Homo sapiens: one gene and its partners. The protein of the gene in region 1 interacts with the protein of each later gene in a biochemical or structural test. Each region holds a gene or a part of one and is shown in the gene's direction. Other genes may lie near its edges.

Evidence for each region.
Region 2: of the proteins of ATXN1 (region 1) and DZIP3, one has a biochemical effect on the other in vitro, tested with the Homo sapiens proteins (one study listed by BioGRID).
Region 3: of the proteins of ATXN1 (region 1) and PML, one has a biochemical effect on the other in vitro, tested with the Homo sapiens proteins (one study listed by BioGRID).
Region 4: the proteins of ATXN1 (region 1) and COIL form a complex in vitro, tested with the Homo sapiens proteins (2 studies listed by BioGRID).

What each region holds. Positions count from the first base shown.
Region 1 is NC_000006.12:16,298,612-16,303,492, reverse strand, and holds the end of ATXN1 (ataxin-1), read left to right. Parts: 3' UTR 1-4,381; downstream 4,382-4,881. UniProt on the Homo sapiens protein: Chromatin-binding factor that repress Notch signaling in the absence of Notch intracellular domain by acting as a CBF1 corepressor. Binds to the HEY promoter and might assist, along with NCOR2, RBPJ-mediated repression. Binds RNA in vitro.
Region 2 is NC_000003.12:108,683,711-108,690,742, forward strand, and holds part of DZIP3 (E3 ubiquitin-protein ligase DZIP3), read left to right. Parts: intron 1-505; coding exon 506-631; intron 632-2,717; coding exon of another isoform or gene 2,718-2,734; coding exon 2,735-2,874; intron 2,875-4,265; coding exon 4,266-4,386; intron 4,387-4,882; coding exon 4,883-5,026; intron 5,027-5,112; coding exon 5,113-5,214; intron 5,215-7,032. UniProt on the Homo sapiens protein: E3 Ubiquitin ligase proteins mediate ubiquitination and subsequent proteasomal degradation of target proteins.
Region 3 is NC_000015.10:74,039,705-74,046,736, forward strand, and holds part of PML (protein PML), read left to right. Parts: intron 1-3,284; coding exon 3,285-3,435; coding exon of another isoform or gene 3,436-3,476; exon of another isoform or gene 3,477-3,634; intron 3,635-4,516; coding exon 4,517-5,304; 3' UTR 5,305-7,032.
Region 4 is NC_000017.11:56,958,044-56,965,662, reverse strand, and holds the start of COIL (coilin), read left to right. Parts: upstream 1-4,612; 5' UTR 4,613-4,643; coding exon 4,644-4,888; intron 4,889-7,619. UniProt on the Homo sapiens protein: Component of nuclear coiled bodies, also known as Cajal bodies or CBs, which are involved in the modification and assembly of nucleoplasmic snRNPs.

The sequences.
Region 1 (4,881 bases):
TTTTGGCTTTTTCCTTGTTTGGTTGATCTTCCCCATTCTGGCCAGAGCAGGGCTGGAGGGAAGGAGCCAGGAGGGAGAGAGCCTCCCACCTTTCCCCTGCTGCGGATGCTGAGTGCTGGGGCGGGGAGCCTTCAGGAGCCCCGTGCGTCTGCCGCCACGTTGCAGAAAGAGCCAGCCAAGGAGACCCGGGGGAGGAACCGCAGTGTCCCCTGTCACCACACGGAATAGTGAATGTGGAGTGTGGAGAGGAAGGAGGCAGATTCATTTCTAAGACGCACTCTGGAGCCATGTAGCCTGGAGTCAACCCATTTTCCACGGTCTTTTCTGCAAGTGGGCAGGCCCCTCCTCGGGGTCTGTGTCCTTGAGACTTGGAGCCCTGCCTCTGAGCCTGGACGGGAAGTGTGGCCTGTTGTGTGTGTGCGTTCTGAGCGTGTTGGCCAGTGGCTGTGGAGGGGACCACCTGCCACCCACGGTCACCACTCCCTTGTGGCAGCTTTCTCTTCAAATAGGAAGAACGCACAGAGGGCAGGAGCCTCCTGTTTGCAGACGTTGGCGGGCCCCGAGGCTCCCAGAGCAGCCTCTGTCACCGCTTCTGTGTAGCAAACATTAACGATGACAGGGGTAGAAATTCTTCGGTGCCGTTCAGCTTACAAGGATCAGCCATGTGCCTCTGTACTATGTCCACTTTGCAATATTTACCGACAGCCGTCTTTTGTTCTTTCTTTCCTGTTTTCCATTTTTAAACTAGTAACAGCAGGCCTTTTGCGTTTACAATGGAACACAATCACCAAGAAATTAGTCAGGGCGAAAAGAAAAAAATAATACTATTAATAAGAAACCAACAAACAAGAACCTCTCTTTCTAGGGATTTCTAAATATATAAAATGACTGTTCCTTAGAATGTTTAACTTAAGAATTATTTCAGTTTGTCTGGGCCACACTGGGGCAGAGGGGGGAGGGAGGGATACAGAGATGGATGCCACTTACCTCAGATCTTTTAAAGTGGAAATCCAAATTGAATTTTCATTTGGACTTTCAGGATAATTTTCTATGTTGGTCAACTTTTCGTTTTCCCTAACTCACCCAGTTTAGTTTGGGATGATTTGATTTCTGTTGTTGTTGATCCCATTTCTAACTTGGAATTGTGAGCCTCTATGTTTTCTGTTAGGTGAGTGTGTTGGGTTTTTTCCCCCCACCAGGAAGTGGCAGCATCCCTCCTTCTCCCCTAAAGGGACTCTGCGGAACCTTTCACACCTCTTTCTCAGGGACGGGGCAGGTGTGTGTGTGGTACACTGACGTGTCCAGAAGCAGCACTTTGACTGCTCTGGAGTAGGGTTGTACAATTTCAAGGAATGTTTGGATTTCCTGCATCTTGTGGATTACTCCTTAGATACCGCATAGATTGCAATATAATGCTGCATGTTCAAGATGAACAGTAGCTCCTAGTAATCATAAAATCCACTCTTTGCACAGTTTGATCTTTACTGAAATATGTTGCCAAAATTTATTTTTGTTGTTGTAGCTCTGGATTTTGTTTTGTTTTGTTTTTTAAGGAAACGATTGACAATACCCTTTAACATCTGTGACTACTAAGGAAACCTATTTCTTTCATAGAGAGAAAAATCTCCAATGCTTTTGAAGACACTAATACCGTGCTATTTCAGATATGGGTGAGGAAGCAGAGCTCTCGGTACCGAAGGCCGGGCTTCTTGAGCTGTGTTGGTTGTCATGGCTACTGTTTCATGAACCACAAGCAGCTCAACAGACTGGTCTGTTGCCTTCTGAAACCCTTTGCACTTCAATTTGCACCAGGTGAAAACAGGGCCAGCAGACTCCATGGCCCAATTCGGTTTCTTCGGTGGTGATGTGAAAGGAGAGAATTACACTTTTTTTTTTTTTAAGTGGCGTGGAGGCCTTTGCTTCCACATTTGTTTTTAACCCAGAATTTCTGAAATAGAGAATTTAAGAACACATCAAGTAATAAATATACAGAGAATATACTTTTTTATAAAGCACATGCATCTGCTATTGTGTTGGGTTGGTTTCCTCTCTTTTCCACGGACAGTGTTGTGTTTCTGGCATAGGGAAACTCCAAACAACTTGCACACCTCTACTCCGGAGCTGAGATTTCTTTTACATAGATGACCTCGCTTCAAATACGTTACCTTACTGATGATAGGATCTTTTCTTGTAGCACTATACCTTGTGGGAATTTTTTTTTAAATGTACACCTGATTTGAGAAGCTGAAGAAAACAAAATTTTGAAGCACTCACTTTGAGGAGTACAGGTAATGTTTTAAAAAATTGCACAAAAGAAAAATGAATGTCGAAATGATTCATTCAGTGTTTGAAAGATATGGCTCTGTTGAAACAATGAGTTTCATACTTTGTTTGTAAAAAAAAAAAAGCAGAGAAGGGTTGAAAGTTACATGTTTTTTTGTATATAGAAATTTGTCATGTCTAAATGATCAGATTTGTATGGTTATGGCCTGGAAGAATTACTACGTAAAAGGCTCTTAAACTATACCTATGCTTATTGTTATTTTTGTTACATATAGCCCTCGTCTGAGGGAGGGGAACTCGGTATTCTGCGATTTGAGAATACTGTTCATTCCTATGCTGAAAGTACTTCTCTGAGCTCCCTTCTTAGTCTAAACTCTTAAGCCATTGCAACTTCTTTTTCTTCAGAGATGATGTTTGACATTTTCAGCACTTCCTGTTCCTATAAACCCAAAGAATATAATCTTGAACACGAAGTGTTTGTAACAAGGGATCCAGGCTACCAATCAAACAGGACTCATTATGGGGACAAAAAAAAAAATTATTTCACCTTCTTTCCCCCCACACCTCATTTAAATGGGGGGAGTAAAAACATGATTTCAATGTAAATGCCTCATTTTATTTTAGTTTTATTTTGATTTTTATTTAATATAAAGAGGCCAGAATAAATACGGAGCATCTTCTCAGAATAGTATTCCTGTCCAAAAATCAAGCCGGACAGTGGAAACTGGACAGCTGTGGGGATATTAAGCACCCCCACTTACAATTCTTAAATTCAGAATCTCGTCCCCTCCCTTCTCGTTGAAGGCAACTGTTCTGGTAGCTAACTTTCTCCTGTGTAATGGCGGGAGGGAACACCGGCTTCAGTTTTTCATGTCCCCATGACTTGCATACAAATGGTTCAACTGTATTAAAATTAAGTGCATTTGGCCAATAGGTAGTATCTATACAATAACAACAATCTCTAAGAATTTCCATAACTTTTCTTATCTGAAAGGACTCAAGTCTTCCACTGCAGATACATTGGAGGCTTCACCCACGTTTTCTTTCCCTTTAGTTTGTTTGCTGTCTGGATGGCCAATGAGCCTGTCTCCTTTTCTGTGGCCAATCTGAAGGCCTTCGTTGGAAGTGTTGTTTACAGTAATCCTTACCAAGATAACATACTGTCCTCCAGAATACCAAGTATTAGGTGACACTAGCTCAAGCTGTTGTCTTCAGAGCAGTTACCAAGAAGCTCGGTGCACAGGTTTTCTCTGGTTCTTACAGGAACCACCTACTCTTTCAGTTTTCTGGCCCAGGAGTGGGGTAAATCCTTTAGTTAGTGCATTTGAACTTGATACCTGTGCATTCAGTTCTGTGAATACTGCCCTTTTTGGCGGGGTTTCCTCATCTCCCCAGCCTGAACTGCTCAACTCTAAACCCAAATTAGTGTCAGCCGAAAGGAGGTTTCAAGATAGTCCTGTCAGTATTTGTGGTGACCTTCAGATTAGACAGTCTTCATTTCCAGCCAGTGGAGTCCTGGCTCCAGAGCCATCTCTGAGACTCGTACTACTGGATGTTTTAATATCAGATCATTACCCACCATATGCCTCCCACAGGCCAAGGGAAAACAGACACCAGAACTTGGGTTGAGGGCACTACCAGACTGACATGGCCAGTACAGAGGAGAACTAGGGAAGGAATGATGTTTTGCACCTTATTGAAAAGAAAATTTTAAGTGCATACATAATAGTTAAGAGCTTTTATTGTGACAGGAGAACTTTTTTCCATATGCGTGCATACTCTCTGTAATTCCAGTGTAAAATATTGTACTTGCACTAGCTTTTTTAAACAAATATTAAAAAATGGAAGAATTCATATTCTATTTTCTAATCGTGGTGTGTCTATTTGTAGGATACACTCGAGTCTGTTTATTGAATTTTATGGTCCCTTTCTTTGATGGTGCTTGCAGGTTTTCTAGGTAGAAATTATTTCATTATTATAATAAAACAATGTTTGATTCAAAATTTGAACAAAATTGTTTTAAATAAATTGTCTGTATACCAGTACAAGTTTATTGTTTCAGTATACTCGTACTAATAAAATAACAGTGCCAATTGCAGATGTGTGTCTTTGCCTTCTGTTGGGTCCTCAAGGAAGAGGCCAGGAAAAGAGTGCTAATTCCTCCTCCTTATTGACCCCCGCTCACGAGTTCTCCCTGGGTAGGTCGGAGGTAGGGAGGTGTGACATGAGGCATTGCCTTCGCTGCTAATGTTTTGGGGGGAAGAGTACGTGTGAGATGAGGTTCTAAGATAAAAGGCACACAGCCACACCTGATGTCTTGGTTTCTTCAGTTCATGTTTATGCCTCCTAGCTGAACACTGCTGTTCACAAGAGGTATACTTGTCTTTAAACATGTGGTAGCTTCATGCGCTCGTGTGGCATAATCTATACACTCCTTACAGATTTGCTCTAAACTGGTTAGTGGTCTGTAAGTGGAAAATTTATTTTTACTTCCTGTAATTCAAGCTCATTAGAAATTCAGCGAGCAGACCGGGCACAGTGGCTCACGCCCATAATCCCAACAGTTGGGGAGGCCGAGGCACAAGGCCTGCTTGAGCC
Region 2 (7,032 bases), on another chromosome or scaffold:
CTAAACATTAAGTCAAAATTTCATCAAGTATTACCTCCAATATAAAATATTTTCTATGGATAACTTTGGGTTGTTCTGTGAAATTTCTGAGTATCAATATTGCCCACCAACATAGATAACACTTCCTGAGAATCTCCTTTGCATAGTTCTATGTGATTACAGTTGGGAGGGAACCTTAATGATTACCTTATCCAACCCTCTCATTTTATAGATTAGGAAATTGGTTTCCAAGGTTATTCAGCTACGTAGAGAGAAATGTGACTAGAAGCTATTTCTTTTCTGTCTTTGTCAATGCTGTTTTCAATATATCTCATTGCCCTTTGTTTTTCCAATATTCATATGTTTCATTTTCTGACATACATTGTTTCTAATGTGCTTTGTATCTTGAGTTCAAATGAGTGTTCCCCCCGCCATATTGCTGTATGAATTTAGATGATTGCCTAAATAAATATATAAATATGTGGGGGGGGGTGTTGTTTATTATTGTTTATATTTTCTATTTTAGATGCAGCAGTTCTTAGGAAGACCTCTTGTGAAAGAATCTTTCTTTAGACCCATACTTACTGTTCCTCAAATGCCTGCAGTTTGCCCGGGAGTCGTCTCTGCAACTGGCCAACCTAGAGCCCCCCTGGTAAAAGCTTTCTTGGTGGAATAGATGTTAATTAGTTTTTTTATTACTCTAGTGGGCTTCCTGAATGAGTATCTTCATTTTGTTCATTCATTTGATATGATAATGATGGGGGTGGTGGTGATAATTGAATGAATACTTCCTGTGAAGCACTGTGCTCAGGGTGTTACATATATTATTTAACTGATACTAGCTTCGTTTTGGGATACAAAGATAAATATGTTTTTATACTAGAGAATCCTTAAAATTATAGTATTGCTTCTGAAATAGGCAACAATGCAGGGTAAATTGACATTTTTAATAGATTTTTTTGGCATGGTTGTTGGGAAGATTGAAAAGCAAAGAAGCCAAGTCACAACAAACTATATTATGGCACAAAGCTAAAGAAAAATTTTATTTCCACACACGTACACACACATAGTAGGACAGTATTTCAAGTGTATCTATAAACAGACTATAAATAGCATCACCTTGAAACATAAACTGTAAAGTTATAAATCTTCCCAGCTACAAATAGCCAGATAAACTTTATCCAAACCTGAAGAAGGAACATATAAATTTGAAATTACCAGAATTATCAGTTGTAATCTTGGTGAAGGTTTTTTATTAAAGGAAAATCTTCCAAAAGAATGATGTTAGATGTAATTAATGAAAATTCTCTAATCTTGATTTTCCTATAAGTATAATTAGGTGCAATTAATTGTTTCTTTTCTTTTCTGCTCCCCATATATTGCTAACAGTTTCCTTTTGAAATACATGGTCAGGTGGACTCTGCTTATTATTGTCGAGGCTACCTGTCTATAAACAAATCTGTATATAGTCCTTAATATGTTAAATAAGTAACACATCTTTTTACTACCATGATATTACAGTGTTAACTCTTGCAATTTGCTTGCCCACCATTCTATAAGAAACTATGATAAAATTTTATTAAAAACATTAAAATACCTTAATCTCCTAATAAGATTACTTTCTGATTCCTGGGGTAAAGCTTGACATAGAAGCAAATTCAGATTTCTGGGAAATATTCTGCTTCCCCTCACTTCTTAGGCTCTGTACAAATTATTACAGTGACTGTTAGTAGTTGCTAGTTTTTCATGAATAATAACCTAATATTTGAAAATAACCCATTAGAGCCTTACATAAAAGGTGCAAGTGGTCATAATTATCTTAGTAATCAGATGAGCACTCCAAAAATACTCTGTTATTATATTATTTAATTAGAATCTTAAGAAGGAACTACCATAAAATATGGAGAAAAGTGATGGTTTCATGGCTGCATGTCACTACAACTTCTGCACCACTTTTGTCTACAACATTGATGAGACATTGGGCAGAGCAGTTCTAGTAGTATTCCCATCTTTATTTGGTTGTTTGAAAAATGTAACTTTACTTTCTCGTTATAAAGGTATATATGCTAATCACAAAATGCGAATAATATAGAAATGTAAGCACATTAGAAAACAAAGTTACTGTGCAATTGATCCCTAAGAAATAATCACTTCTTACGCATTGTAATTTACAGACCTTTCTCCGTGTATACATATGCATTTAAAATTTTTTAATGTAAAAGGAAGTCGTATCATAAATACTGTGCCACAGACTTTTTAAAAAATCATATTTCATGCATATCTCTTATGCCCAGACATACAGTTCTATTTTTAAAAACTTGATTAGATGTGCCATAATTTATTCATTTCTCTATAGATGTAAGGTTTTTTCAGTTTTCACTGTTAAAAGAGAAACAGCAGTAAACAGCCTTCATGTTTTGCTGTACATGTATGTAATTACTGAAGCAAGCATGTCCTATTTTAAAAATAAGTTTAAATATTTATAAACAGTTAGAAATATTGTTTGTATTAGTTAAGAGAAAAACCCTAAAAGGGATTGTGTATGCCAGTATTCTTCTTCATTCTACCCTTTTCTTTGTCCTATTTTTAAAATAAGTTTAAAATAGTTACAAACAATTAGAAATATTAAGAGAAAAACTGTAAAAATTGAATGTGTATGCCAGTACGCTTCTTCATTGTACCCATTTTCTGAGGTATAGGAATGTCACTTCTTAATAATTAAACCTGCTGGGCTATAGCTCTCTGCCTCTTACAGATGACTGGCATAGCCTGGGCTCTGCCAGCGCCTGTGGGAGACGCTGTGCCTCCCAGTGCAGGTCTGCGGAGTGATCCCTCCATCATGAATTGGGAGAGAATTACAGACAGGCTGAAAACTGCCTTTCCACAGCAAACCAGGTACCTTAGTTTTTATTTATTGGTGGGTACAGATCATATTCTCCAGTTTTCATAGCCATAATTGTGGCAATGAAACATTTCAGAGAAACATAACAAACACAAAAAAAGTACAGATGTTTCCTTACCTTGACCTTGGTAAGGAAAAAGAAATTTACCAAGAAGAGACAGTGTTCAATGGTGAACCTCTTCATTAAAAAGTTACTTGTCTTAAATCATGAGAGAATAACTTTAAATTTAGGTATGCTCATTTACTAAAAGTACAACTAGATGTAAACTTACCCAATTTTAATGGCACTAACTGCCATTATTATCTTAACCTATCTCCAAAGTGAATTTTAAGTTGATTGTATGCTATATAAGCCCAAACATCTTTAGGATTTAATTTCCTAATTTCCTTAATTTTGAGGGTCCTTATAGTTTCTTTGTTGGAGAACACACTAAAAATGCAAGAAATCATAACTTTACTGTGCTTTTCACAGTCTACCTTTAGTAGAAAGATATTTAATTATATTCCTACACAAATGAAGTTTCTTTTATCTCAACTCATATCTAAGGAAATAATTCTACTTTTCACAAGTATTTTTATTTCAATACAAACATTTAATATATATACTGGCACACTTCATTATTAAATTATAATTTTATAAATTTCATAATAGTGAATAGATAATAAAATAGAACTCTAGTACAGTTGTTATAAATATGTATAAAAACATTATAAATCAAAGGTAGTTGCATAAGGCTGATGACATGACACTTCATTTGGGAAACAAAAATATTTCATTCTACTTTGTCCCATCAAAACTGTAGATGCAGGCTTTGGATCAATGGATCTTGGGAATTAAAAAGGAACATATCAATTAAAATAATTGTGGGTTCTTTCATTATATAATTAATGTGATTTTTAACCCTTGCTTTCCTGTTCTGTTTAATCTTTGTTTTCTGAGTTTTACGAAAGTACAACTATTAACACTGATAAAGAAGAGAGAAACCAATAGCAACATAGTTAAAAATAAATATGTTATCCTGAGCAAGAAACCACTTGAGAGATGGTATAAAGAACCCAATGCATAAATAAGTGGATAAACTTAATTTTCACCTAGTGAGCTCTCAAAAACGAAGTCTCTTTTTGGAAAGAAAATAAGTACTAAACTTTATCACTCATGAAAACATTAAGTATCATTAATGAACACAATTAGGAGTTTTCCTTTTGGTTTAAGATAAATGCAGATGGACCTGTGATCACTTTTTTAGATCAAAGACCTAAAGAGTCCTGTCTGTATGCTACATATCAATCATGCGATAGGATTTTATATCTCCTTTGGTGGGTACATCCTCAAAGGTACTAAGGAAAATCATTACTGCCCTTTCCTTTCCTTGATCTCTTGCAGAAAGGAACTTACAGATTTCTTACGGAAATTGAAGGATGCTTATGGAAAATCCTTGTCTGAACTGACATTTGATGAAATTGTTTGCAAGATTTCCCAGTTTATTGACCCCAAAAAGTCTCAGGTAAAATGCAAAAACAACCAAAAAACCTGTATCTCTCTGCCCTTAACTCTAGTAGTTAACTGTTTTAAATATCTCCATAACCTGTTCAGAAAATCAGTAACTTGTAATCATATTAAATCATCTATTAACAGTAAATAACAACTTCAACTTAACAAATGATATCAGAAGTCTTTTTGAAATACCTGTTACCTAATCATTCTAGAATAAAACTGACCTCCTTGAAATTTGCTCTAGTTTCTTTGAATGAGTCTAAAGAGGGAGAGATTTTCTAATTTTCTTGAAAGATTTATTTTAATTAAAAGAATGTATAGAGTTATTTTTGTTTTTACCTAGCTCTGAGTATATAAGTATTGCCACCATTTTGTTCAAGATTTCTCACAAATCTGATTATTTACCCTTTTGCTAGTTCTTACTATACCCCGTTCTGTACTAATGTTTCAGCTCTTACTGTTTTAGGATAATTCTGAAAAAATAAACATTATGTTCTTATTTTCAGAGTCAAGGAAAATCAGTGTCAAATGTTAATTGTGTTTCACCTAGTCATTCTCCATCACAGCCTGATGCTGCCCAGCCCCCAAAACCAGCCTGGAGGCCACTCACTTCACAGGGTCCTGCCACATGGGAAGGAGCCAGTAATCCAGTGAGACTGAAATTTTTGATTCTGAACACATTTAGATTTGGGAGAAAACAATGAGCTAAATTTAACATTTTCTGTATTTTCCCTAGGATGAGGAAGAGGAAGAAGAAGAGCCTTGTGTGATCTGTCATGAGAATCTGTCTCCAGAAAATCTTTCAGTTTTGCCTTGCGCTCACAAATTCCATGCTCAGGTAACACTTTAAATTTTCCCATTAATCAGCTAAATGAGATTCATACTGCCTTACTTATTATCATATACATGTATCATTATCCATTGTTGTCTCACAAGTTCCACTGGATATAACTCTGAGCTTTTGGGTACCACACAGAAACATTTATGCTTTTCCCATACATAGCCATGGATTGCATTGTGCTCTCTCAGATCTCCATCCACCCTACAGAAGAAGGGGACAATGTTGAGAGTCAGATGGTACACAGTAGGCAGTTCCTTCGAATAGAACTGGGACAAATGTCGATTGACGTGGTAGTTTAGTGGCAGAACTAGCAACAGCACCACTTGAAATTGACATGCTATAAATACCACATAGTGTCCTTTGTCCATAATTAATGACAGCCCCCTTTCATAAAGCATAAGATTTATCAGTCTCTTCAGGCTTCTATATTTGCTTTTGAAAGATACTCAGGCTTGAGTTTTGATGTTAGAAAAATGTGAGGCATGGTGGCTCACACCTGTAATCCCAGCACTTTAGGAGGCTGAGGTGGGTGGATCATGAGGTCAGGAGATCGAGACCATCCTGGCTAACACTGTGAAACCCCATCTCTACTAAAAATACAGAAACAAAATTAGCCGGGCGTGGTGGCGGGTGCCTGTAGTCCCAGCTACTCAGGAGGCTGAGGCAGGAGAATGGTGTGAACCCAGGAGGTGGTGCTTGCAGTGAGCCGAGATCGGGCCCCTGCACTCCAGCCTGGGTGATAGAGTGAGACTCCATCTCAAAAAAAGAAAAAGAAAAATATGAGGTTGGCATGTCTTTTGTTGATTCTTGGCATTTATATAGATTAAATTCTGGTGTTACTGCCACACAGTTGCTATTGGTATATAATTAATGATCCAAGTCCTCTGTTGCAGAGATGTAATTTGACACAGGAAAAGGTAGTCATAGTAAAGAAAGGCTTTTCAGGGAAGTAAATAATAGCCAGTTCAGTCAAGCCATGTTTGTAAGACATCATTTCAAAGATATGATATGTGGTACCTGGTACAGAATTATATTTTGTATTTGCTCTAATATGAAGATACATCCACAAAATGCCTAATCCCAAAAGTTTTCTAGGAAAGATCCTTAGCCATTGACTTTCCCCTTTGAAGTTTATAAGGTTCTGACAATTTAGGAAATACATGTTTAACAAAACTTATCCTACTCTTTGCCATTGCCCACAAGTAGAAAGCATATAATTCATTCAGGTCATTTTTTATGACTATAGTTAGTGGGCCTATTATATATAGTGCTTATTATTAATCCTCTCTCATCTGACCTGGCCCTCCATTATTTATATACGTAAAAATGATTTGTTTTTGGAGAGTCAGCATTCAAGCAAGTGACTTAACAGATAGTTCATAGCCGAAAATTACTGTCATTATCGCCAAAGAAAACAATCTGAGAAGTGTATTCATGATCTAGGGATTTTAACTGCAAACACCATAAGCATTTCATACCAGGTACTAGTGACTTTTGTATCATTAGTTATGACTTTTTCTGGATTATAAATGAGAACAGTATATAGTAAACCAAAGAATATAGCAAGTTTCTCCAATTTCCTTGTCAGGAAGGATTGCTAGTCATCTTGAAAATTGAGGTTGAAGGAAGCATTTCTAGTAGAATAAACTGGCTAAAAGGTATTGTGCAGTTACCACCTATTTTGTTTAGCAAACCACAGGGAAGGTGCCATGGTTGCAGCAATTGGTTTGACGATCCACAGCGTAAGGCTTTAAAGATCCACCAGAAGACATGTTGGTTGGTAACCCTGATGCATAGAGTGACAACTGCCTCTGC
Region 3 (7,032 bases), on another chromosome or scaffold:
AAAGCTATGAATGCCTAACCAAAGTCAAGAACCACTGAATCGGGGGATTCATTGCATGTCTGTGGTAGAGGAATGCTGCTCATTTGTTTATAGATGTGGCAGTCTTGAATGCAGGTGACATTTTCATACCAGGGTGTAATACCGCAGAGGAGGGGAGAGGCTGGATCTTCCCTGATGTACCTCCTGGACTTTTGGAGTGTGATTACAATGCCAATCCAGCCACTTCCTCTGAGCATGCTTGGGACGACTGTTAGACCTGCTGTGTTGAGTTAGAATGCACTTGACCTGCTCAGGCCGTGAAATCTATGAGGAAGGGGAGTGAGATGGATGTAGCTCATGAGCCAGATTGCAGGTGTATCCAAGTTGCATGTATATCCTGAAAAAATCCTGGCTCTCACGAGGCTCAGCCTGAACACAGTTTTGCATTCAAAGAAACAATGTCCATTAACCAAGTATAATAAAGAAATAAATCCCAGTATTTACTTGCATCTTTTGAAAGAACATTAAAGGGAATCCAGCTCATAACCCCAGCAGCACTTCTTCAGTCCTTCTTCCCCTTTTCTTTGGCGCCTGGCATCTCTCACTGCATAGCAAAGCTTTCCCCCTTGATTCCCGGTCCTCACACGCAGGCTCAAGGCTCTGTTTCCCATCTTCTTTCTTCTGTCCCCCTTCCTTTTCTCTTCCAAGCAAATCTAAGTCTTTTCCAGTGACTGTCCCTCTCTATGCTCCCCCGACACCCAGTTATCCTAATTTGCGGAATAAGGCCAAGGTGTGGGGCCTGGGGGCAGAATGGGAGAGTCTCCCCTAGTGAGCAGGGAGGGGAGTATGTTCTGCACCAGGCCACTATGTCTGATGGCCCTGCTGGCAAACCTGAGTCTTTCAGAAAGTCTTGTTTAAATGCGTCAGCACTCCCCAGCTGTGATGCTGGAGTTTAAGGCGGAGCAGGGGAGAATTCTGGGTTTACAGCTGGCTGGAGTTCCAGTGAGACCAGCTCCATGGGTGGCCATACTTTATGGAAGTCCCCAAGGGCAAGAGGAATTTTGGAGGAAGTGAGTCAGGGCTGAAAGGTCCAGCCTCTCCTCCATTAACAAGCTTGGTGGAAAGGGGGTGTCCTTTTATTAAAGGAGACAGTAGAGGTTTCTTAGAGAAGGCAGCTCGAGTAAGTTTAGGACAAAGGACATTTCCCTGGCCCCGGGACAATGGAAGGCTCTAAAAACGAGGTTCTAGTGGCTGCCATAAATGACCCTGCTGTAACGATGGGAGGGGTGGCCTAAAGAGACAGTACTGTGGCTCTCCAGGGAGCTCTCCTCTTGGAAGAGCAGATCTGAAGGCGGGAAGACTGGTTCTAAGGCCGAGGACATTGCCCCGAGCTTTGTGGAGGCACTCAGGAACACAAAGGGGCATTTCCAGTTGGGTTTGGAGCAGGAAGAAGAACGAAAAAGAGAAAGTCCTGTGTGCCATGTCAGTGGGTGGCAGCATGGACTCAGCCTCAGCTATTGGCACCAAGGATCTGAACCAGGGAGGACCCAGAAGGGGAGCCCAGCCCCTCCACCAGCTTGTGGGAGAGCGCTGCTGCCCAGTGAAGCCTGGAGAGAGGAAACAACTGGATTCTCCCAAAGCGGGAGAAGGTGGAGTCTCCAGCCACCCAGCTACAAGCTAGGAAGACGCCTTGTAGAAGGCTCCTTACAGGGAGGAAACCGAGTTGGAAAGGCGAGACAGCAGTGTGGGCTCACCCGGAGCAAGACGTGTGAAATCAGCTTTTGACAGCGTGGCTGAATGAGGATCTGGAGATGCGAGGCGCTGGGCAGACTCTCTGACTAGATCCCTGGATATGAAGAGGCAAAGCCAGCTCTAGATGGATTCATAGTGAGTGTCTGCTTCTGACAATAACTGGCAGAAAGCTGATGAGCCTGGAGCAGGGCTGTGAAATGCAAATCCAGTGAAATCCAGCCACTCCTACAAAAACCCACCACATCTTAGGTTACTTGTGGGTGGAAACGCTTTTTCTCTCAGTTGAAGCTTGGTTGGAAGCAGATGTTTCACTTGGGCATTGGAAGGGTCTGGGGAAATGTGCTGCCTCCTAGGCCAGGGACATTAGCCAGAGGCCAGAATTAACTGAGGCTTTAGCACCAGGTGACACCAACTTCATTGAGAAGCCAGCGGCAGTCCATAAAGAGGAAAAACCCAAGGCCTGCCCTGGACTCTGTCCCAGCCATGCTCCCAATTGGCCCTGTGATCCTGTCCATGTCTCTTCCTTGCTGGTCTCTGGCTAACGTCCACAGGTGGCATTCATGGGAGGTTCCAAGTTGGTCATCAAAGACTAAACATCTGGGCTTGGCAGCTGAGCAGATGATAAGCAATTAACTCTGTATTACCATCAGAGGCTCCACCTCCCTCTGTAGTCCCAGTCCCTTGGGAAAATCTCAGAGCTGGAGCCCTTCCCTCATCCTCTGGCTCCCCACCCCATGGCTTCTCGAACAGTGTTCCCACCAGGACCTTGGGACAGGAGAGAACGCCTCACCTGAAGGACTCCCAAAACTCAGGTTTCTCTAAGCTGCTGGGGCAGATGCCAAGAGCCTCCACTGCTCTCTCACTGCCAAGGACCTGGGTGTCCACCTAGATGTGGCCTTCAGGAGGCCAAGCAGTCCTTCCCCTCGCCTTTGTGTAGGACACTGGCACCTCGGCTGACTTCGGGGACAAGAAAAGGCAGGCTCCCGACCCCTTCCAAAGAATCATCTGGGGTTCAAGATGAGGCTTCTTTCTCCCGTCCCAAGTTTTGGTGTTTCTTCTGAGTCTGCTCAGAAAGATGAAATTAGGAGCAGACATCTCAGGTCCTGCCTGCCATAGCAGATGGCTCCTTCCCTGAGCCTCCATAAGCAGCACAGCACACTCATGCACACACCCACTGGCATTTTCTCTCACACTTTCATACACTTGTGTCAACGCAGGTTCACAGCTCACACTTAACTGTGCATGCACACACAGATTTAGCACTTGGATTCATTCCCACACATGCACGTTCACAACCTGTGTGTGTCACCCTTCCTCCCCTACTCATGAGGGTGTATGCCCTGGTTCATACATGTAACCCTCACATGTGACACACCCAGTTCACACCCATTCATGCACACATACCTTCTCTTGTGCACACGTCCCCTTTCCCAGTGGTACACCCTCCTTCATGTGCACGCAGATGCTCCCAGCTATACCAGCTTGCTAGTGTTCTGCACAGGTGCTTGCCTTGGCCCTCTGAATCCCTGACGCTTGGTTTTTCTGTGTTGCAGTCCTCCCGAGAGCTGGATGACAGCAGCAGTGAGTCCAGTGACCTCCAGCTGGAAGGCCCCAGCACCCTCAGGGTCCTGGACGAGAACCTTGCTGACCCCCAAGCAGAAGACAGACCTCTGGTTTTCTTTGACCTCAAGATTGACAATGAAAGTGGGTTCTCCTGGGGCTACCCCCACCCCTTTCTAATTTAGTCTCTGAGTCCCAAAAAGAAGTGCAGGCAGAGCCATCTGCCAGGCCCAGGAGAGCTCTGAGCTCTGGCCAACAACTGCAGCCAGGCTGGGCAGAGCACTCCGGCTCACCTGGGCTCCTGGCGTGTCATTTGCTGGCTTGAATAAAGATGTCCGCCTTATCCAGTGCCTGAGTGTGCGAGAGAGGCAGATGCCTCCACAAGTGCACCTCTGACCAGTTCTTCTCTCAGACAGAGAGCCTGGGGAACACACTCCTAGACAGAAACACAATGCGTGAGCTCATTGCCGTGAGCCCTGTCATCCAAGTAAGGCCTCTGGCTGTGCTACACGTTTCTGAGTAGAGGGCCAATCCCACAGGTGGCTGCACAGGGCTGCCCACAGATCCAAGGTCACAGAGGGATCAGACCCCTTATCCTGGAAGCCCCTCTACTTCCTCCAGTGCTTGCCCTGGCTCTGCAAATGCCCCTCCTTGAGCCAGAGCCCCAGGCCCTACCCTGTGGCATGGACTCAACATTGGGGCTAGCCCAGCCAGACAGAAACAGCAAGTGTTTTCATGGTACAGAAAAGTCATTTGCAGACCTCAGTGGGAGGCTCTTGGCCTTGCTCTGAGTGGAGTGCTTTCTATGTCCCAGGGCTCTGACTGGGCTGGGGTCCTTGAGGGGATTGGAGGAAGGAGCATGGGATGGAGAGCTAAGTTCAAGCAGCCTGGGATCTCTAGTATAGGTGGCTGAGGCTGATAGAAGACAGGAGGGACCTGTATCCATGGGGTTTGGCCAACTCTGGGGCCGGTAGTGGAGGAGGGGAGAGCTGGATCCCCAGCTGGTGAACAAAGTGTTTGGAGGGCAGCCGAGCCTCCCCTTCTGACTGCTATCCCACCACAACCAGGATCAGAGCTGCATTTGGGGGCTGATGTGTGGCTACTGCCAGCAGACCCCAAGGTGAGGTCTCTAGATGGTGAGTCAGCAGCCCTAGAGGACCCCCTGCTCCCACCCCAGAGCTCTCTGTGACCCTGGGTCCTCACCCTGCCCTTCTCTCCTGCCCAGCCCAGAAGATTAGCCAGCTGGCTGCGGTGAACCGGGAAAGCAAGTTCCGCGTGGTCATCCAGCCTGAAGCCTTCTTCAGCATCTACTCCAAGGCCGTGTCCCTGGAGGTGGGGCTGCAGCACTTCCTCAGCTTTCTGAGCTCCATGCGCCGCCCTATCTTGGCCTGCTACAAGCTGTGGGGGCCTGGCCTCCCAAACTTCTTCCGGGCCCTGGAGGACATTAACAGGCTGTGGGAATTCCAGGAGGCCATCTCGGGCTTCCTGGCTGCCCTGCCTCTCATCCGGGAGCGTGTGCCCGGGGCCAGCAGCTTCAAACTCAAGAACCTGGCCCAGACCTACCTGGCGAGAAACATGAGCGAGCGCAGCGCCATGGCTGCCGTGCTGGCCATGCGTGACCTGTGCCGCCTCCTCGAGGTCTCCCCGGGCCCCCAGCTGGCCCAGCATGTCTACCCCTTCAGTAGCCTGCAGTGCTTTGCCTCCCTGCAGCCCCTGGTGCAGGCAGCTGTGCTGCCCCGGGCTGAGGCCCGCCTCCTGGCCCTACACAACGTGAGCTTCATGGAGCTGCTGAGTGCACACCGCCGTGACCGGCAGGGGGGCCTGAAGAAGTACAGCCGCTATCTAAGCCTGCAGACCACCACGTTGCCCCCTGCCCAGCCTGCTTTCAACCTGCAGGCTCTGGGCACCTACTTTGAAGGCCTGTTGGAGGGTCCGGCGCTGGCACGGGCAGAAGGAGTCTCCACCCCACTTGCTGGCCGTGGCTTGGCAGAGAGGGCCTCCCAGCAGAGCTGAGAGGAGGGGGTGACCAGCTTGGAGTCTCTGGTGGGCAGAGAGGGATGGGGTCCCTGAGCCAGGCCCCACCCATCACAGCATTCCCAGGTCCTGGTACCCAGCCCTCAGTTGTCATTTGGTTCAGAATCAGTTCCCTTTCTCTGGGACCAAATTTCCCTTCTCTAAACATCCTACAGAGAAGGTTCCAAAGCTGAGCACCCATCACCCTAGGTGTGCACCAGACTCCTATTAGCCCCTCCTTCCAGGAGCTAGAACCAGGGAGGTCCTGAGTGAGGAAGGCATGACCTCTGGGCTCTCTAGGTGGCCCTGGTCTTGCCCCATCCATCCCACCTGCCACTACCTTGGGTGTCCTTACAGCTCTGCCCTGACCCCAGCCCCTGCCCCTGGACACCTGCTGACAGCTCCCACACAGAACAGTCTGAGGTGATGCTGGCTACAGCCCTGGCAGCCCATGGCAACTCAAAGTGCCTTCCAAACCAAACTGCCCCTCATGAGGTTAGGGTCCCCCACCCTCCACCTGCCCAGAGGCCAACTCTGTTCCCTTCTCCTTTCATCCCAGAGGGGCCTCATCAGCAAAGACAGAAACTGATGTTCCATGCATGTCCCTGCTTCCAAAGCCTGACCTTCCAAAGCTTGCTTCCTTCCTCCTGGCTGCACAGACACCTCTGCTTGGCCACAGCTTTGCTCTTTGGTCCTCAGGCCACCAGACCCCTCACAGCATGGCCCTTGGCTCTTCCTGCACTGCCCTCACCCTCAGCCGTCCCAAGGAGTGCCCAGCACTACTCAGCATGTAGTCCAGGACCTGCGGCATCAGCATCCCCTGGGAGCTTCTTAGAAATGCAGACCTGTGGGCTCTACCACAGGCCTCTGGAATCAGAATCTTCAGGGTGGGGCCCAGCAGTCTGTGTTTTAACAGGTTCTCCCGGTGATGCTGGTGCATGCTCAAGTTTGAGAACCGCTGCTCTCATAGACTGCTCCTCCAAGGGGAAGCAGTGTGGAACAGCAGAGAAAGTCCCGTCCCTATCTCTGACTGTGCAGTGAGTGTGGCCTAGGAACAGGTCCCTTCCTAAGCTCTAGTGTCCCCATCTGTAAAATGGGCTGATTGGCCTCCACGGTCAGAGCGGCCATCTGGCTGTGCCATCCTGCATTTTTAGGAATGGAAAGCAGGCCTCTGAGGCAGTGGACAGGAAGACTTCTCATCCTTGAATTCTAGCTCCCATTCCAAACTGTTAGTCCCCAACCTTGTGGTCACATCAGAGGTCAACAGCAGAACAGAGGCAGGTCAGGGTTGTCCGCTCTGATTAGCAGAACGACAGCCCCTTCCTCCTCCTCCCTCCTTCCCATCCCTACTCATTAGCTCCCTGCTCCTGGGATGCTTCCCAAGCAGCCCAGGCCTCTAGCCTCCATGGCTGATGACCTCAGCTTTCACACTGGTGAAGTCTGTGTACCCATACTGCAGCCCCATCCCATGGGGCCCCTGAAGACCCACTGAGGAATTCCGTAGGGTCTTGTTCCCACGACCGGAGTGCTGGCTCTCACAGTGAATTTTGATGCATTTAAAATAAGATTCTGATGCCAGACTGTTAAAACAGGCGCTGGTTCTGAAGCACCGATGGAAACAGATTGATGCAGATGGAAGGAGGAAGGGAGACTGGGCCCACTGATTTCCAGCCCCACCATGTGTGCTGTTTTCAGATGTGATTGAGGGGTGTTCTGCCCTGCCTCCAC
Region 4 (7,619 bases), on another chromosome or scaffold:
GAAGCTCCTGGCCAAATAAAGCCCTTCCTTCTTTAACTCGGTGTCTGAGGGGTTTTGTGTGTGGCTTGTTCTGCTACATTTCTTGGTTCCCTGACCGGGAAGCGAGGTGATTAACGGACAGTTGAGGCAGTCCCTTAGGTAGCTTAGGCCTGCCCTGTGGAGCATCCCTGCGGGGGACTCCAGCCAGCTTGAGTGACATGGATCCTGAGAGCAGTCCCTGGTAGGCAATTGCCCTGGTGGAATGCCTCATCAGAGCAGTGCATGGCAGGCCCCTGTGGAGGATCAACGCAGTGGCTGAACACCAGGAAGGAACTGGCACTTGGAGTCCGGACATCTAACAACACCTGTATGGGATTTGTATGCTTAAAACCACACAACGCTGATGAACGAAATCAGAAAGCTGAATAAATGGAAAGACATAATGTGTTCATGGATTTAGACTCAACATCCTAAAGATGTCAATTCATACCAAATTAATATATAGGTGTAGCACAATTTCTACCAATATCGCAGCAAGATTTTTTGGAGATATACACAAACAACATTATTTTAAAATTTATAAGAAAAGGAAAAGGAAGTAGAATAGCTAAAGCAATTAGGGCAAAGCATAAATACAGTGGCTCACGCCTGTAATCTCAGCAGTTTGGGAGGCCAAGGCAGGCGGATCACTTGAGGTCAGGAGTTCAAGACCAGCCTGGCCAACATGGTGAAACCCCGTCTCTACTAAAGATACAAAAAATTAGCCAGGCGTGGTGGCACCTGCCAGGAGATTGAGATCAGTCTGGAAGACATAGTCCAACACTATCTCTACAAAAAAATTAAAAATTAATGGACATGGTAGTCCTAGCTACTTGAAAAGCTGAACTGGGAGGGTCACTTGAGCCCAGGAGTCTGAGGCTACAGTGAGCTATGATCACACCACTGCTCTGCACTGTGGGCGCAATCTGTCTCTAAAAGAAAACAAGGGCCAGGCGCGGTGGCTTAAGCCCATAATCCCAGCACTTTGGGAGGCCGGGTGGATCACTTGGGGTCAAGAGTTCCAGACCAGCCTGGCCAACATGGTGAAACCCTATATCTACTAAAAATGCAAAAATTAACCTGGCATGGTGGTGTACACCTATGAAACCCTGTATCTACTAAAAATGCAAAAACTAGTCTAGCGTGGTGGTGCGCACCTATAGTCCCAGCTACTCGGGAGGCTGAGGCAGGAGAACTGCTTGAACCTGGGAGGCAGAGGTTGCAGTTAGCCAAGATCACGCCACTGCACTCCAGACTGGGCAACAGAGTGAGACTCCCTCTCAATAAAAAAAGAAAAGAAGAAAAGAAAAAAGACTGTATGGTGTTGGTGGAGGGAAAGACATATAGATCAATGAAACAGAACAGAGAATCCAGAAATAGATGTACACAAATATGCCCAACTGATTTCTGACAAACATTCAAAAGATTCAAAATGGAGGACATATAGTGTTATTAACAAATAGTACTGGAGCAATTGGACATCAAGAGGCAAGCAAACAAACAAAAATGAACGCTGATATAACTCTTACACAAAAATTAACTCAGGCTATGGCTCACACGAGTAATTCCACTGCTTTGGGAGGCTGAGCTGGGAGGATTGCTTGAGCCCAGAAAGTAGGGGCTGCAGTGAGCTATGATCTTGCCACTGCACTCCAGCCTGGACAACAGAACAAAAAACAAACAGGCTGGGCACAGAGGCTCCCGCCTGTAATCCCAGCTCTTTGGGAGGCCGAGGTGGGCAGATCACCGGAGGTCAGGAGTTCAAGACCAGCCTGACTAACATGGTAAAACCCTATCTCTACTAAAAATACAAAAATTAGCCAGGCGTGGTGGCGGGTGCCTGTAGTCCCCAGCTACTCGGGCAGCTGAGGCAGGAGAATCACTTGAACCTGGGAGGCAGAGGTAGCAGTGAAGAAAAAATTGATCGACCAGACTTCATCACAATTTAGAACTTTTGGTCTGTGATAGGCCCTATTAAGAGAATGATTAAAAAAAAAAAAAAGCTCCAGAGTCAAAGAAAATAATCCGCAATCCACATATCTGACAAAGTACTGTTACTGGTGGAGGGTGTTCTTGGCATCTTGAACAGAGAATTGGACAAAACGCACAAACAAAGCAAGGAAAGAATGAAGCAACAAAAACAGAGATTTACTGAAAATGAAAGTACGCTCCACAGGGTGGGAGCAGGCCCGAGCATAGGGGCTCAAGGGCCCTGTTACAGAATTTTTGGGGGCTTAAATACCCTCCAGAGGTTTCCACTGGTTTCTTGGTGTATGTCCTATGTAAATGGAGAGGATGAGGTAAAGTTAGAAAGTCATTTACTCCTCGTATGCCCTATGTAAATGAAGAGGATATTTCCTGTCACAGCTGAAGTGTGAATTGGCCTTATGTTCCCTGCCTCCAGATCCTATTTTCCTGCCTCAGTACTACTATCTAGAATACATAAAGAACTCTCAAAATTTAACAATCTAATAAGAGTAGATGTAAAAGACTTGAAGAGAATTTCACTGAAGAAGCACATAAACACAGGAAAAATGTTCAACATTATTAGCCATTAGAAAATACAAATTAAAACCACAAGAGGCTGGGCATGGTGGCTCATGCCTGTAATCCCAATATTTGGGAGGCTGAGGTGGGAGGATAGCTTGAGCCCAAGAGTTTGAGACCAGTCTGGGCAATGTGGCAAAACTCCGTCTCTACAAAGATTACAAAATTTAGCAGGGCATGGCAGTGCATGCCTGTAGTCCCAGCCACTCAGGAGGCTGAAGTGGGAGGTTCATTTGAGCTTCAGAGGTGAAGGCTGCAGTAAGCCTTGTGATCACGCCACTGCACTTCAGCACTGGAGACATAATGAGACCCAGCCTCAAAACAAACAAACAAATAAATAAAACCACAACATACCACAACACATCTACCAGAATGACTAAAAAATAGTGACAATGCCAAATGGTAGTCAGGATGTGGAGAAACTGGGATTACAGGGGTGAGCCACTGCGCCCAGCCGGAAATGCCCAAAAGTTATCCTGTATGGTGTAAAAGGGGAGTAACCCTCAGTTCTGAGGGAAATCCCTGCCCCTTTCCTAGGGATACAGAAAACTCATGAATAATCCATCCTTTGTTTAGCATACAGTCAAGAAGTAACTATAAGTATACTTGACTGAGTATACTTATAGTATGGGCTCGCTGCTCTGTCTATGGAGTAGTCATTCTTTTATTCCTTTAATTCTCTAATAAACTTGATTTTAGTCGGAGGTGGTGGCTCATGCCTGTAATCCCACCACTTTGGGAGGCCAAGGCAGGCAGATTGCTGGAATTCAGGAATTCGAGACCAGCCTGGCCACCATGGAAAAACCCTATCTCTACAAAAAATACAAAAATTAGCTGGGCTTGGTGGCTCACACCTGTGGTTCCAGCTACTAGGAAGGCTGAGGTGGGAAGTCACTTGAACCCGGGAGGCAGAGTGCACCACGGCACTCCAGCCTAGGTGACAGAGCAAGACTCTAAAAAAAGAAAATCCAAAAACCCTTACTTTCAGTTAAAAAATTTTGTTTTCAATTCATCTACTGACTCCCTGGTATCTACAACTTAACTAGTCTAGTGAACTTGGGGAAGTTACTCCTTTTTTTTTTTTTAAGACAGAATCTTGCTCTATTGCCCAGGCTGGAGTGCAGTGGCACGATCCTGACTCACTGCAACCTCCACCTCTTGGGTTCAAGCGATTCTACTGCTTCAGTCTCCCGAGTAGCTGGAATTATAGGCACATGCCACCACACCCGGCTAATCTTTATATTTTTAGTAGAGTTGGGGTTTCACCATTTTGGCCAGGGTGGTCTCAGACTCCTGGTCTCAAGTGATCCGCCCACCTTGGCCTCTCAAAGTGCTGGGATTACAGGCGTCAGCCACTGCTCCTGGCCTCTAGTTACTTCTTAAACTCTCTGAACCTTGTTTTTTTTAAATCCTCTAAATAAGGATAACAGTTCATAATTCCTAACTTTTGTTATGAAAATTAAAGGAGTTAATATATATTATGTGGAGAAATGTAAATTCTAGTTCAAAAAATAGAAGAAATAATGTAAATACTGATTTATTTATCTGGTGAGAAATGCAAGGACATTTTTGTTTGGTGGTGGGTATTAAAAGGCTAAGGTATTTATATTCCACTGGATACATTTGGAAGAATGATTAACAGTGTTATTTCAAAATTTCAACATTGAGAACACACTAGGACTTACATCTTTTTCAACTCATCATGATGAAAAATTTTGTCAGCGAAATGTGTTAGGATTGTTTTATAAAAATCTTTCACGTCGATGAGCAAATATCTTAGAAGACTACTGCTGAGGAGAAATGTTATTTATCCAGAGAGTTGCCTTAATTAGGAGACCCTACATAGCGCCCAGTAGAAATGTAATAAAGGCATTTCACTTATTCCCTTCCTCAGCCCTGCCGTGAACAAAATTGAATGAAATCAACCACGCTCCGAGTTCTCGCCTAGACGCAGCCTGTAGTAGCCAGGTTTCACCACTAGGTGGCACACGCCAAAGGCTCCGGCGGGGGCGAGCCGCCCGAGCACGCCTCTCGGTGGCCCCGTGGTATCTCTCGGCTTCCGTTGAGCACCAAGCAAGATGGCAGCTTCCGAGACGGTTAGGCTACGGCTTCAATTTGATTACCCGCCGCCAGCTACCCCGCACTGTACGGCCTTCTGGCTTCTGGTCGACTTGAACAGATGCCGAGTCGTCACAGATCTCATTAGTCTCATCCGCCAGCGCTTCGGCTTCAGTTCTGGGGCCTTCCTAGGCCTCTACCTGGAGGGGGGGCTCTTGCCCCCCGCCGAGAGCGCGCGCCTTGTGAGAGACAACGACTGCCTCAGGTGCGCGGCGCAGGGAGCGGGACGGCCGGGTGGGCGGCGGGCGGGGGACGCGCCTGCGCACGCCCGGGCCTGAAGCCGCTAGACCTGGTAGTGGAGGGGATGGGGGATGGGGAAGGGGACGAGGGTTGGAGGGGGGTGGGGCTGTAAAAATGCACGTTCGCGAACCCCGGAGATCCTGATTGGTGTAGTCAACTTTGGGGCTCAGGAATCTGCATTTTATTATTATTTTTTATTATTATTTTTTTTTTTTTGAGACGGAGTCCTGCTTTGTCACCCAGGCTGGAGTACAGTGGCGCGATCTCGGTTCACTGCAACCTCCACCTCCCGGGTTCAAGCAATTTTCCTGCCTCAGCCTCCCGAGTAGCTGGGACTACAGGCGTCCGCCACCACGCCCGGCTAATTTTTGTATTTTTAGTAGAGATGGGGTTTCACCATATTGGTCAAGGTGGTCTCGAACTCCTGACCTCAGTTGATCCGCTTGCATCGGCCTCTCAAAGTGCTGGGATTGCAGGCGTGCACCACCGCATCCTGCCCCTATTATTTTTATTTTTGAGACTGAGTCTCATTCTGTCACCCAGGCTGGAGTGCAGTGGCGCGATCTCAGCTCACTGCAGCCTCCACCTCCCGGGTTCAATCGATCCTCCCACCTCAGCCTCCCGAGTAGCTGGGCTTACAGGCGGGCGCCACCATGCCCGGCTAATTTTTTGTTTGTTTGTTTGTATTTTTAGTAGAGACGGGGTTTCACCGTGTTGGCCAGGCTGGTCTTGAACTCCTGACGTTAAGTGATCCTCCCGGCTTCCCAAAGTGCTGGGATTACAGGCGTGAGCCTCCGCGCCTGGCTGGAATCTGCAGTGTAACGAGCATCCTTCCCGGGATGCTTCTGATGACAGGAGAATCAAACTTGGAAAATCCCTGATGCCTAAGGGCAGGGCCAGGCTTTCTTTCAGCCTTGATTTAGCACATCCGCGCTTAGCTAGGCACTGTGCGACTCTGTTGCGTGCCCATGGTGCAGATGTGCCGGAGACCCGGCCTTACCCATGGCGGCCTTCAGGGTCAGGTGCAGGAAGCTGACAAAGGGGAATCGTTGTGTTTTCTTCATAACCTGCTGTTGTCCAGCCTTAGTTCTCATGTGCCCAGTGTCCCCTGAGACTTCTGGTGGCGTATCATTTTGTGTCTCACCCAGACATTTTGGGATTCTCTCAAATAAGTGTCTTGAGTCCTTTTGGGCTGTAAATTGGGAAACACAAAATAATCTTAAATATGCTTTTGGAAGTTAAAAAAATGATAATGAGATGAGTATCCAGGAGCAATTGTAGTGTGAATTGCTGAAATGTGGTTGAGTTGCCACAGTAAGATGATGGTATCTGATCATTCCAGTTTGGATTCATATCTTGGACTGATTTATTCAGACTTTTTTTTTTCTTTTTTAAATAAAGAGACTGGGTTTCCCATGCCCAGGCTGGAGTGCAGTGGTACGATCATAGCTTGCTGTAACCTTGACTTCCTGGGCACAGGCAATCCTCCCACCTCAGCCTCCCGAGTAGTTGGGACTTCAGGCCAGGCAACCACGCCTGGCTAATTTTTGTATTTGTTGTAGAGACAGGGTTTCGCCATGTTGCCCAGGCTGGTCTCGAATCCCTGGGCTCAAGCTGTCCTCTCACCTCAGCCCCCCAAAGCACTGGGATTACAGGCGTAAGCCACTGTGCCAGCCTTCCTTCCCCCACCCCCTTTAAGCTTCAGCTACAGTGAATTAATTCCAGAGTTGTGAACCAGGCTATTTTCTCTTGCTGCCCTTTGTCGTTGAATATTCCTTACCCTCAAGCATGTCAGATTCCGTAAGATTTCTTCAGAACATCAGGGAATTTAATTTGGAACAGTAACTGCATCTTTAAATCAGGATATTATGATTTATTGAATAATGTTCAACTGTTTCAAATGACAATTTGAAATAATCCAAATTTCAAAGAGTTTTTTTTCCCCCTTTTTATTGACTGTGAAATAGGTCTCTATTCTCTCTGCAATTCAAGGATTATTTAAATGTTACAATTCTAAGGATTGTGTCCCATCCTATTAAGTTTACTTTCTGAACTGTCTCTTGCCTAATGAGTTAATAACTTGTGCTAACTATAATTATACTTTAATGAATCATGTGGGCATTACATTCTTCATAATGAAGTTAACAATGACAAAAACAAACCATGAAAACTGTTATAAGTAATAATTACAACACGATGACAGGCAAATCTTTCCTAAATGCTTCAAATGCACAGCTGCATGTGGCAAAAAATACCTCTCTAGTGGCTTCAGTGGCAAATGGGCAGACCGTAGAAAAAGATGAATCTGGAAAGTTCGTCTTTGTTTTTGTTGTTTTATGTCCACAATCATTGTTTTTCCCTGGCAAATTCACTTTTCTTCAGAGCTACGGAAGAACACATAGTCTCTATTCTCAAAGTACCCAATATTGTTGGACTGGGACCCAAATAATGAGTCTCATGCTTTTGTATATTACCTTCTGTGATACAGACAATTAGACTGAATAGTTAGACCAAGTTATATGGTAAGTGCAGAAGCTGGTTGAGAAAAGGGAGATCAGCATGGAACAAAATGGTTAGGGAATTGAGCAGTACCTTGAAGAATGGGTGGGAAATGTTGGATGATCAAAGCACAGTTATAGAGACAAAAGCTGGCTGGACTTGGTAAAAAGATGAGTCTGACCAGCCAAAGCATTCTG